Regions from separate parts of the Homo sapiens genome. Here region 2 is linked to region 1. Evidence: fine-mapped expression QTL. A gene starts in region 1. The other region holds a variant in brackets. All regions are shown on one strand. Distances are from middle to middle.

Evidence for each region.
Region 2: its variant is fine-mapped to the expression of ZSCAN31 in nucleus accumbens (GTEx, PIP above 0.99).

What each region holds. Positions count from the first base shown.
Region 1 is chr6:28,333,646-28,338,645 of GRCh38, reverse strand. ZSCAN31 (zinc finger and SCAN domain containing 31) reads left to right here and starts at 2,498. Exons shown (of 4, transcript NM_030899.5): 1 at 2,498-2,564. RefSeq lists an enhancer at 2,833-2,952.
Region 2 is chr6:27,992,428-27,997,962 of GRCh38, reverse strand. No RefSeq gene overlaps it. Among named protein-coding and RNA genes, the nearest start is that of OR2B6, 38 kb to the right of the region's middle. The variant G/A (reference allele first, on the strand shown) is at 3,015.

The DNA of each region.
Region 1 (5,000 bases):
TTTAAAATTTGTAGTATAGCTGGATGTGGTGGCAGCAGCTCACACCTTTAATCCCAGCATTTTGGGAGGCAGAAGCAAGAGGATTGCTTGAGCACAGGAGTTTAAGGTTGCAGTGATCACACCACTCCACCCCAGCTTAGTTGACAGAACGAGACCCTGTTCTGTCTCGTTTTGTAATTGTAATTATCATTACAATTACAAAAAAAATTGTAATGTGATGTAAAGAATGTATTTTCCATTCTATATTTATTTATTTATTTTTCGAGATGGGATCTCACTCTGTCAGCCACGCTGGAGTGCAGTGGCACAATCTCAGCTCACTGAAAACCCCACCTTCCAGGCTCAAGCAATCCTCCCACCTCAGACCCACAGGCATGTGCCACAATGCCTGGCTAATTTTTGTATTTTGGGTAGAGATGGGGTTTCACCACGTTGCCCAGGCTGGTCTTGAACTCCTGAGCTCATGCAATCTGCCTGCCTCAGCCTCCCAATGTGCTAGGATTATAGGCGTGAACCACCACGCCTGGCCTATTTTCCATTCTAAATCTCCATTTTTGTTTTTTTTCTTTTTCCTTCTTTATTTATTTATTTATTTAATTTTGGAGACAGGGTCTCAGTCTGTCACTCAAGCTAGAGTGCAGTGGCACGATCATGGCTACTGCAGCTGGTGATTATCCCTGCTCAGCCTCCCCAGTAGCTGAGACTAATAGCATGAGTAACTGTGCCTGGATAATATTTTTTATTTTTTGCAGAGACAGAGTCTCACTATGTCGCCCAGGCTTGTCTTGAACTCCTGGACTCAAGAGATCCTCCCATCTCGGCCTCTCAAAGTGTTGGGATTACAGGCGTGAGCTATTACACCTGACTTAAGTCTCCATTTTCATATCTATGTTTGTACTTGTAATTTTGTATTCCTTTTCTCAAATAAGGTCTCTTGAATTGTATAAGCTGGGTCTCTTTCTGTCTGTATTCCTTGTTACATTATAAACCCCATGAGGATGAGGACCTTGTGTCCTTCATTATTATTATATCCAGCAAGCCCTTGGCACAAAGATCGCATTCAATGGGAATCTATATAATTAATGAATGAGTTGTAAAAAATCAATTCAACCTCTTAACATGTATTATCTGTCTTCTCTATTTCTATTGCTACTGCCTTGATTCAGGCCCTCACTCTCTCTACCCTGGATTCTTGTAGTAGTCTCCTAGCTGGTCTCCCTGCCTGTAGTCTCATTTCCTTACAGTCCATCCCCACATGGCTGCCAAGATAACATTTCTAGATGTAAATTTGATCAGACTGCTCAAATTCCTTGGTTAGGGATCCAAAAAAAGTAAGAGCTGGTGCCCCTGCCACATATACCACTCTCCAGTCATGCTGATCAGCCCAGTTCTTTGGATGTACCAAAGGATTTCACCCCAGTTCTGCTTTTGTACATTTGATTCCCTCTCCCAGAAATTTATTTCCTTTGCTCCTTTTCCAGTGTACACTGGCAGATTCCTGCTGAGTCTTGTTTTGCCCCATTAGTTTTCCTCTCTCTTCCACGCCACGAATTCAAACTAATACATACATTTATTTCCTACATACGTACTTAGCATGTTCCAGAGGCTATTCTCATCGATTTACAAGCACTTATTTTATTTTACTTCATTTCACATGCACGTCTGTTTTACGCAGTTACTTGTTTACACGCTCTTCTTCTAGACTTTGGGATTCCAGAAGACAGAGGTTTGAGTGTAAAACACAAAATAACAAAACCACAACAAAAACAACTCTGTATTCTCGTCCCCACCATTACCATCTCTCCTTTGTGATGTCAAAGAGACCAGAGGAAGTGGACAGACTCGGGGAAGAATAGGTAAGTATTAGAGACAGAAAAAGTATGAAGTCCCTTCTGTGAGGACTAACAATAGTGATGCCATTTTACAACCTTGATGACTGTGTTCTCAAGAAACAAAGCAAATGTCAACCCCGTCCATAGCTTCAACAGAGCATAACAGCTCTAACCGCAACAGAGCCTAACGGCCCTAACCACATCTGTCCCCAGTTGGAAAGTGTCCAAACAGTTCCAACTAGCCAGCACTTCCCCAACCCCTCCCCAACAGAAACTTTATTATAAAAGCCTCAGCTTGTAAGCGATCAGGATCTCAGCCAGATTCCTAACTGGAACTCTTCGCAGGCTTTTCCTGTAAATAAACCTGTTTGGCCGTGGAATTGCCTCCTGTTACTCGCTCTCTACGTTTATATCTTCCTAACACCTTCCGGCTCTAATGTTTTGGGTCTCGATGACCATCTAACTCCTAAATGCTGGGGGCCGCTCCCCATAGAAATGCCTCGCCGGATTTCTCCGCCTCGCACCCAGTGGGACTGGGATTTTTGGCCCCGGGGTTTGCAATAAGGGAGTCACCAAGCAGCAGCCACCTCTGGAATTCCTAGAAAGGAAAGAGTTGCCTGGCTTCAGCCAGTGGGCTCAGAACGGCTGACGCATTTCCGGCCTTTGCGGTTGATCGGTCATTGGGGTGCTGCAGCCCCGCCACCTGTTCCGTAGCTTGCCGGTGCCCCGAAGGTGAGTCTTGGCCCCTTGTCGCGACCCGCCAGGTTCCCAGAAGATTTCAGGTCTGTGCCTTGGAGTAGGCGGGGAGGGAACGTCTGCGCAGGCGTGACCCCCGCCCCTACACATTCACTGGCCTGAAGCCCCCGTGGAGTAGGTGGAGGTCCCGCCCCTTATCCTGAAGATTAAACAGCCTTTCTTTGTCTGAGATAACGCCCGGAGTTCTTTGTCCTGCCTCCAAGACGATAAAGGAGCGCAGACACAAAGGTGAGGTTAGAGCGAAAGTTTAATAAGCGAAAGGAAAAAGCTCTCTGCCAGCAGAGAAGGGGTCCCGACCGGGAGTACCCATTATGGGGCCCGTTCTGGGGTTTTTATGGACTGGAAAGGAGAGGGAATGCGCTTAGTCTGCGGGCTGTCCTGGCGAACGCTTGACTCAGCTTGGTCCGGGACCAATCAGGAGCTGAAATGATGATTCATAGCTGCTGCTTAGCTTGGCCCAGGACCTATCAGAAGCCGAAGTGAAAGTTTGGCCCCGGACCAATCAGGGGCTGAGGTGATGATTCACAGAAGCTGGGCTTATAGTCCTAATAAAGGAAAGTAGAGCGCCTGCCGGAACCTACCAGAACCCACCGTGTCCATACCCACAAAAGGAGAAGAAACTTTTCCTGGGAACCTGCTGACTATACAAAGGACAAAGGCATTATGTGTCAGGCCTTGTTCCCTTATCTGAGTGAGCTGGAGGTTCTGTGCAAGTTTTTATCCAAATGGGCCCGAGGTTTTTCTATCTATGCAGCCGTGGGCATATCTCTAGGCACAACACCCTGTGCTAGTTCCCTTATCGGTGCCTGCAACCTGATTTTTTCCCCAGGCTTAGTTTTATGTTATGTGGGGATAAGACACTAAATCATGGGCGGGGGCAGGCTCTCCAGGGACCCTTCCCTTGCTATCCACCTAAGGCAAGCTAGGTAGCCCTTTCACAGGGTGGTGGGAGAGACCCCTAGAGAGGTCGGAGCTTTGCGGCGAAACCGAGGTCCAGAGGTAGAGAAGGGTCTCTCCCTGTCAAAAGCCTTATTTCCTATATACACGTAATTTTTATTTAATAAGTCAACATTATGCAATGTTTGTCGCATATGTTTTCTTTAAATATTGTAAAAACCACCAACCTCATAACTTGTCACCTCTAGTTTCTAATGCATCTCTAAAAATTGGGGACATTTCCCTACATAACCACAAGATTATTAGCACACCCAACTAAGTGTAGGCGCTTCACCTAACACCTAGTTCATGTTTAAATCCTTCCACCCCCTGTTGTCCCACAGATGTCTTTTATACCTGTTTGTACCAACTAGGATCCAATCATAGACCACTCACTGCATGTAGTTGAGTCTTAACCTAGGGCAATTTTACTCTTTGCCTCCCTTCCTCCCATCCCATTGCCTTGTTTAAAAGGAGGCTCTTCCAGTCTTCCTGTAGTGCATCCCCATTTCTGGATTTGACTGTTTCCTCATGGTATTTAAGGTCTTCTTCTGTTTTCTTGTCATCGTAATTGGTATCCTTTGGGATTTATTTTACAACACACATGATTTGTGATTTACATGATCTCTTTGTTGCTGTTGTTAATTATGCTGACGTGAATGAAAACATTCTCATGAATGAAAACATTCTCTTTTATGCTCTTTCTGCCATGTTTTTATTTCGGTGAAGGACAGTGGGGACACATCAAATTCTGCATTGTTTCACTCTTTGCTGTCTGACACCTCGTAAACACTTAGTAAATATATGTGAAATGAATTCCTTTGTGGATTACAGGCAATGCATAAAAACTTAATCTTGTATTTAGGATGAGCTCTTCCACTTCCTCCAGGGGTATACCTTGTATACATTTTTTAAATTATGGCTTTTATTTTATTGTATTGTAACTATATCCTCATGAGCTATAAACACCTCTATATTCCAAGCTCTTAGCTCAGCTCCATAAATTGATTGTCCAGTGACTGAACTGCTTTTACAAAGGTTAAGCTCTTTCTCCTTTCACTTGTACAGTAACATCTAAACTAAGTGGAAGTCTTTCTAGATTCAGTGCAATAGTCTTCACCCCCTCCACTTTACCCTTTTTTTTAACTCTTGCCTCTTCTGCTTCTACTCTTGCTTTCTGCTTCCACTTTTGCCTCTACCCTCATTCCCTCAGCTCATTCTCCATCCAGTAGCAGAGCTTCTCGGTACAGAATTCAGCCTTGTCACTCCCTTTCTTAAAGCCTTCAGTGGTTTCTCATTGCATTTATAAAATCCTAACTCCTATGCCCTACATGATCTGACTCCTGCTTGGCTTGCCAGCCTAATATTTTGCCACTCTTCTCCCACATGACTGTAGACACTCCAGCCTCCTTTCCTGTCTTTGATGGCAGCATGCACTTCCTCAGGGCCTTTGGATAGTCCAGAGTGCTCTTCCCC
Region 2 (5,535 bases), 340 kb after region 1:
TTTCCTGTATTCAAGAGATTCTCCTGCCTCAGCCTCCCAAGTAGCTGGGATTACCGGTGCCCATCATCATGCCAGGCTAATTTTTATATTTTTAGTATAGATGGGGTTTCACTATGTTGGCCAGGCTGGTCTTTAACTCCTGACTTTGGGTCATCTGCCCCCCTTGGCCTCCCAAAGTGCTGGTATTACAAGCATGAGCCACCATGCCCGACCTGCAATATAACTTTTATAATGATCGTGTAACCTTCAACCCTTTCTAAAGTCATCTTTTAATCTAATAGCTTTTGTTGTAGATTCTATCAAATTTTCTGTAAATGATAATGTGGTCAATGAATAAAAAGAGTTTTTCTTTTTAATATGAATGCTTTTTATTTTATTTTCTTTCCTACTAGACTAGCTAGAACTTCTAGTACAATGTTGAATTATAGTGGCAAGAGTAAACATAATTGCTTTTTTTCTGATTCCAGGAGAAAAGCATAGCTGTGGTTTTGTTTAGAAATTTTTTTTCCAGGTTGAGGAAGTACATTTTTATTCATAATTTGATCGTAGATGGATGTTGAATTTTGTGAAATGCATTTTTGCTTCTATTGAGATGATCATATAGTTAATTTTTTAATCTGTTAATCTAGTAAATTAGATTGGTTGGTTTTTAAATGTAAACCCACCTTTCATTCCTATGATAAATGCTACCTGGTCAGATTGTATTATTCTTTTTATTATGGGATTAAATTTGCTAAAATTTTGCTAAAAATTCTTGTATCTATGTTCATGAGTTATATTAGTCTGTAGTTTAATTTTCTTCCAGGGACTTTGTCTGGTTCTATCAGAATAGTGTTGGCCTCAAAGGATGCATTTGGAAGTATTTAATCTGCTTCACTTCCTGGAAGAGTTTATATAGAATTGATATTACTCTTTACTTAAACATGTAGTAGAATTCACCGGTGAGACTATCTGGTCCTGGAGTTTTCTTTGTGGGAAAGTTTTTAATTTCAAATTCAGGTTCCTTAACTGGTATTCAGATTTTCAATTTCTTCTTGAATAAGCCTTTGGTATTATGTACATTTCATGAAATTTTCCCATTCCATAGGTTGTTGAATTCATTGGCATAATTTGTAATAACTTTATTTAATACGATTATTTTATTATCCTTTTAGTATCTGTGGCATCTGTAGTGACATCACTTCTTCCATTCCTGATATTGGTAATTTGTATCTTTTCTTCCTGACTATTCTAGGTAGAAACTGCTTTTGGTTTTATTGGTTTTCTTTTTTGTTTTATGTTTGTTTGTTTTCTAACTGATTACTTTTTGTTATTTCTTTTGCTGTGTTCATTTTAGGTTTCTGTTTGCTCTTCTTTTCTAGTTTTGTTTTTCTTTTATTTTCTTTCTTGTTTTGAGACGGAGTCTCACTCTGTCACCCAGGCTGGAGTACCCTGGTGTGATCTTGGCTCATGGCAACCTCTGCCTCCCAGGTTCAAGCAATTCTTCTGCCTCAGCCTCCTGAATAACGGGGATTACAGGCACCAGCCACCACACCTGGCTTAATTTTGTATTTTTAGGAGAGACAGGGTTTCACTACGTTGGCCAGGTTGGTCTCAAACTCCTGACCTCAAGTGATCCACCCACCTCGGCCTCCCAAACTGCTGGGATTTCAGGTGTGAGACACCATGCCCAGCCCTTTTCTAGTTTCTTAAAGTGGAAGTTGAGGTTGTTGCTTTGTGATATTTCTTCATTTAAATTTAATATAATTATCAATATGCTTGCATTTGAATCTATCATCTTAGTTGTTATTTCCTATTTTTCATCTATTTTTTGTTCTCTTTTCCTGCCTCCTTTTGTATTAATGAATATTTTATGATTCTATTTTATCTTCTTTTAGTCTTATTAGCTCTACCCTCTTTGTTTCACTTTTTATTTTACAATATACATCTTTAACTTATCACAGTCTAACTTAAAACAATACAATTTCATCTACCTGTTATGCTAGATGAAATGTAAAAATTATTGTTTTATATTTTACTTCCACATATATACATCTTTAACTTATGCTATGGACTAAATGCTTGTCATTTAGTCAAGCATAAATGACAAAATTTACGAGTTGAAATCCTTACCCCCAATGTGATGATATTAGGAGATGGGGACTTTACGAGGTAATTATATCATGATTGTGGAGCAGTCATGAATGGGATTTGTGCCTTTATAAGAACAGAAATGACATGTTGCTCATCCTTTCTGTTCTCCACCATGTGAGGATACAACAAGAAGACAGTTGTCTGTAAATCTAGAAGAGGGCCCTCACCACAACCCAACTGTGCTGGCACCTGCATCTCAGACTTCCCAGACTCCAGAACTGTGAGAACTAATTTCTGTTGTTTGTACTACCCAGTCTGTGGTATTTTGTTGTATCAGCCCAAACTGGCTAAGATGACTTATCATGGTCTAAACTGCCTTTAACTGTTTCAGACAAAGTATTTCAAAGATATCCATTTTATTTGTAAGTAAGAAGTCTATAATTGAGGGAAGGCATTCTTTTCTTTTTCACAACAACGTATCTAGGCAGCTTGAGCTCTAGAGAGCCTTCTCCAGATATGACAGGTGACATACAGGTTTGCTCAAGGAATCCCTGTTTCTCTTTTTTACTTTCCAGTAAAAAAGAAAGCAACTTGCTTTAAAAAGCCACATTTAAAAAGATGTTCCCATGTTTTTATGACTTACCTCTAATTTCTTTGAAGTCATAATACGTTCCTAGGACTAATGGGTTAGAATTTACTTGAAATTTAACAATGTGTTCCTCTATAAGAAAATAGAACTCTCAGTTGCAGCTGAGTAAGCTTCTCTTTCCACAAGGGTGCAAATGCCTGAGTGTTCTAGATGTCTTGGATTTGTGTGGGTGCATGTACATCTCAAACATGAGAAGAAACCATATAAGTGCCTATGGCATGAGAAGTAGAACATTTTTCTAACATGGACAAGGGAAAATAAGCTTATACAATATAAAAAATTTTAAAGCAAC[G/A]TGATTTAAAAAGACATTTCAAAAGATGTTCCCATGTTTTTATAACTTTCCTCAAATTTCTTTGGGGTCATATTGAATTCCTCCTTAATTTATTTTACTAGAGCACCATCCAACTTAGCATATGTTTTTCATTAGAACAACTGGATTCTTTTTGTAAACAAATGCTTCAATTGAAACTGCATGCAGTACGATTTTGATATCCTTCACATTTCCCAGAAAGTTTTATAGAACAAGAAAAAGTAAAAATTAGAAAGCAGAGCCTCCTTCTCTCATGTGTTTTATGTTTGGGGTAATGTGTGTATGGTCTTTTAAATAAAGTACTCACTTATGTTACCCAAATGCAGCTATTTCCTAAGCTCAAATTGTCTATTTGAACAGATAGGGAAGCCATTTAGACCAGTGATCCCAAACCTTTTTGGCACCAGGGACTGGTTTTGTGGAGACATTTTTTCCACGAATTGGTGGGGGTTTCAGGATGAAACTGTTCCACTTCAGATAATCAGGCGTTAGATTCTCACAAGGAGGATGCAACCTAGATTTCTCGCATGTGCAGTTCATAATAGGGTTCATGCTCCTAAGAGAATCTAATGCTGCCACTGATCTGACAGGAGGCAGAGCTCAGGCCATAATGCTAGCTCCTGCCACTCACCTCCTGCTGTGCAGCCCAGTTCCTAACAGGCCACGGACTGGTACTGGTCCATGGCCCAGGGGTTGGGGACCCCTGATTTAGACAATCAGGTGACTATGAGAATGGAATTGTAGAAGAGCTATCATTTTACTTTATATATTATCATTAGGTACACTTTAATTTGATAATTTTCACTTACGAACATAGATCAGGAAGAATTTCCGTGTCATCTTATCTACCATTTCTTTTTCTTTTTGCCCCTCACTTTACCTATTGGGGCAGAGCAGTGATTTTCTTAGTCAGTTTAAGCTGCACGTAATATATAATTTTTTTCAATAAAGCAGATATCTATGAAAAACAGACCCAAATTCCCAGAAGACATATTGATAAGAAGAAGCAATTAAGAGTATTTATTATAACATTGTTAGTATCCACAAAAGTTTAGACATATGGATGATTATATCAGAGATTAATTATCTGAGTAAGAATTAAGGACTTGAGGAAATTCAAAGTACACAACTCTTAAAATTCAACAATAAAAAAATGAACAGCCCAATTAAAAATGATCTGAACAGTCTGGGCACGGTGGCTCATGCCTGTAATCCCAGCACTTTGGGAGGCCGAGGCAGGTGGATCACCTGAGGTCAGGAGTTTGAGACCAGCTTGGCCAACATGGTGAAACCCCGTGTCTACTTAAAGTACAAAAATTAGCCGGGCATGGTGGTACGCATCTGTAATCCCAGCTATTTGGGAGGCTGAGGCAGGAGAATTGCTTGAACCTGGGAGGTGGAGGTTGCACTGAGCTAAGATCGCACCGTTGTGCTCTGGGGACCAGAGCGAGACTTCATCTCAAAGAAAAAAAAATATCTGAATGGATACCTCACCATACAAGATATATACATGGCAAACGAGCATGTGATAAGATGCTCAACATCATATATGATTAGAAAATTGCAAATTAAAACAATGAGATACAACTACACACCTATTAGAATGGTTAAAATCCAAAACACTGACAGCACAAACGAAGCCAATGATGCGGAGCAACAGTAACTCTCATTTAGTGCTGATGGAAATGCAAAATGGTACATCCACTTTGGAAGACTGTTTGACAGTTTTTTCTAAAACTAAACATATGCTTACCATGTGATCCAGCAGTCACACTCATTGGTATTTACCCAAATGAGTTAAGAACATGTCTACATACAAATCTGCACACAGATTTATAGAAGATTTATTCCTAATTGCTAAAATCTGGAAACAATCAAAAATTTTTTTAGTAGATGACTTGACAGATAAATTGTAGGATATCCAGACAATGGAATATTTCTTGCTAAAAAAGCTAGCTATCAAGCCATTAAAAATAGGGAGGAAACTTGAATGCAATGCATATTATTAAGTGAAAGAAGTCAATCTGAAAAGGGCTGCATACTTCATGATTCTAACTCTCTGACATTTTGAAAGAGTCAAAATGGTGAAGATAGTGGAAAGATCAGTGGTTTCCAGGGATTGGTGGGAGGGAAGGATGATTAGATAGAGCACAGAGAATTTTTACAGTAGTGAAACTATTGTGTACAATACTGTAAGAGGGTATAAATGCCATTATACATTTCTCAAAACCCATAGAATGCACAACACCAAGAGTGAACCCTAATGTAGACTACGGACTTTGGGTGATCATGATATATCAATATAAGTTTATTGATTATAAAAATTGACTACTCTGGTGGAGTATGTTGATAATGGAGGAAGCTATGCATGTATGGGGTGGGGGTATTTAGGAGCTCTGTAACTTTCACCCAATTTTGCTGTGAACTGCAAACTTCTTTAGAAAAAAAGTTATTAAAAATACCACTCTGGTGCAGGATATTGATAGTGAAGGAGTTTGTGTAT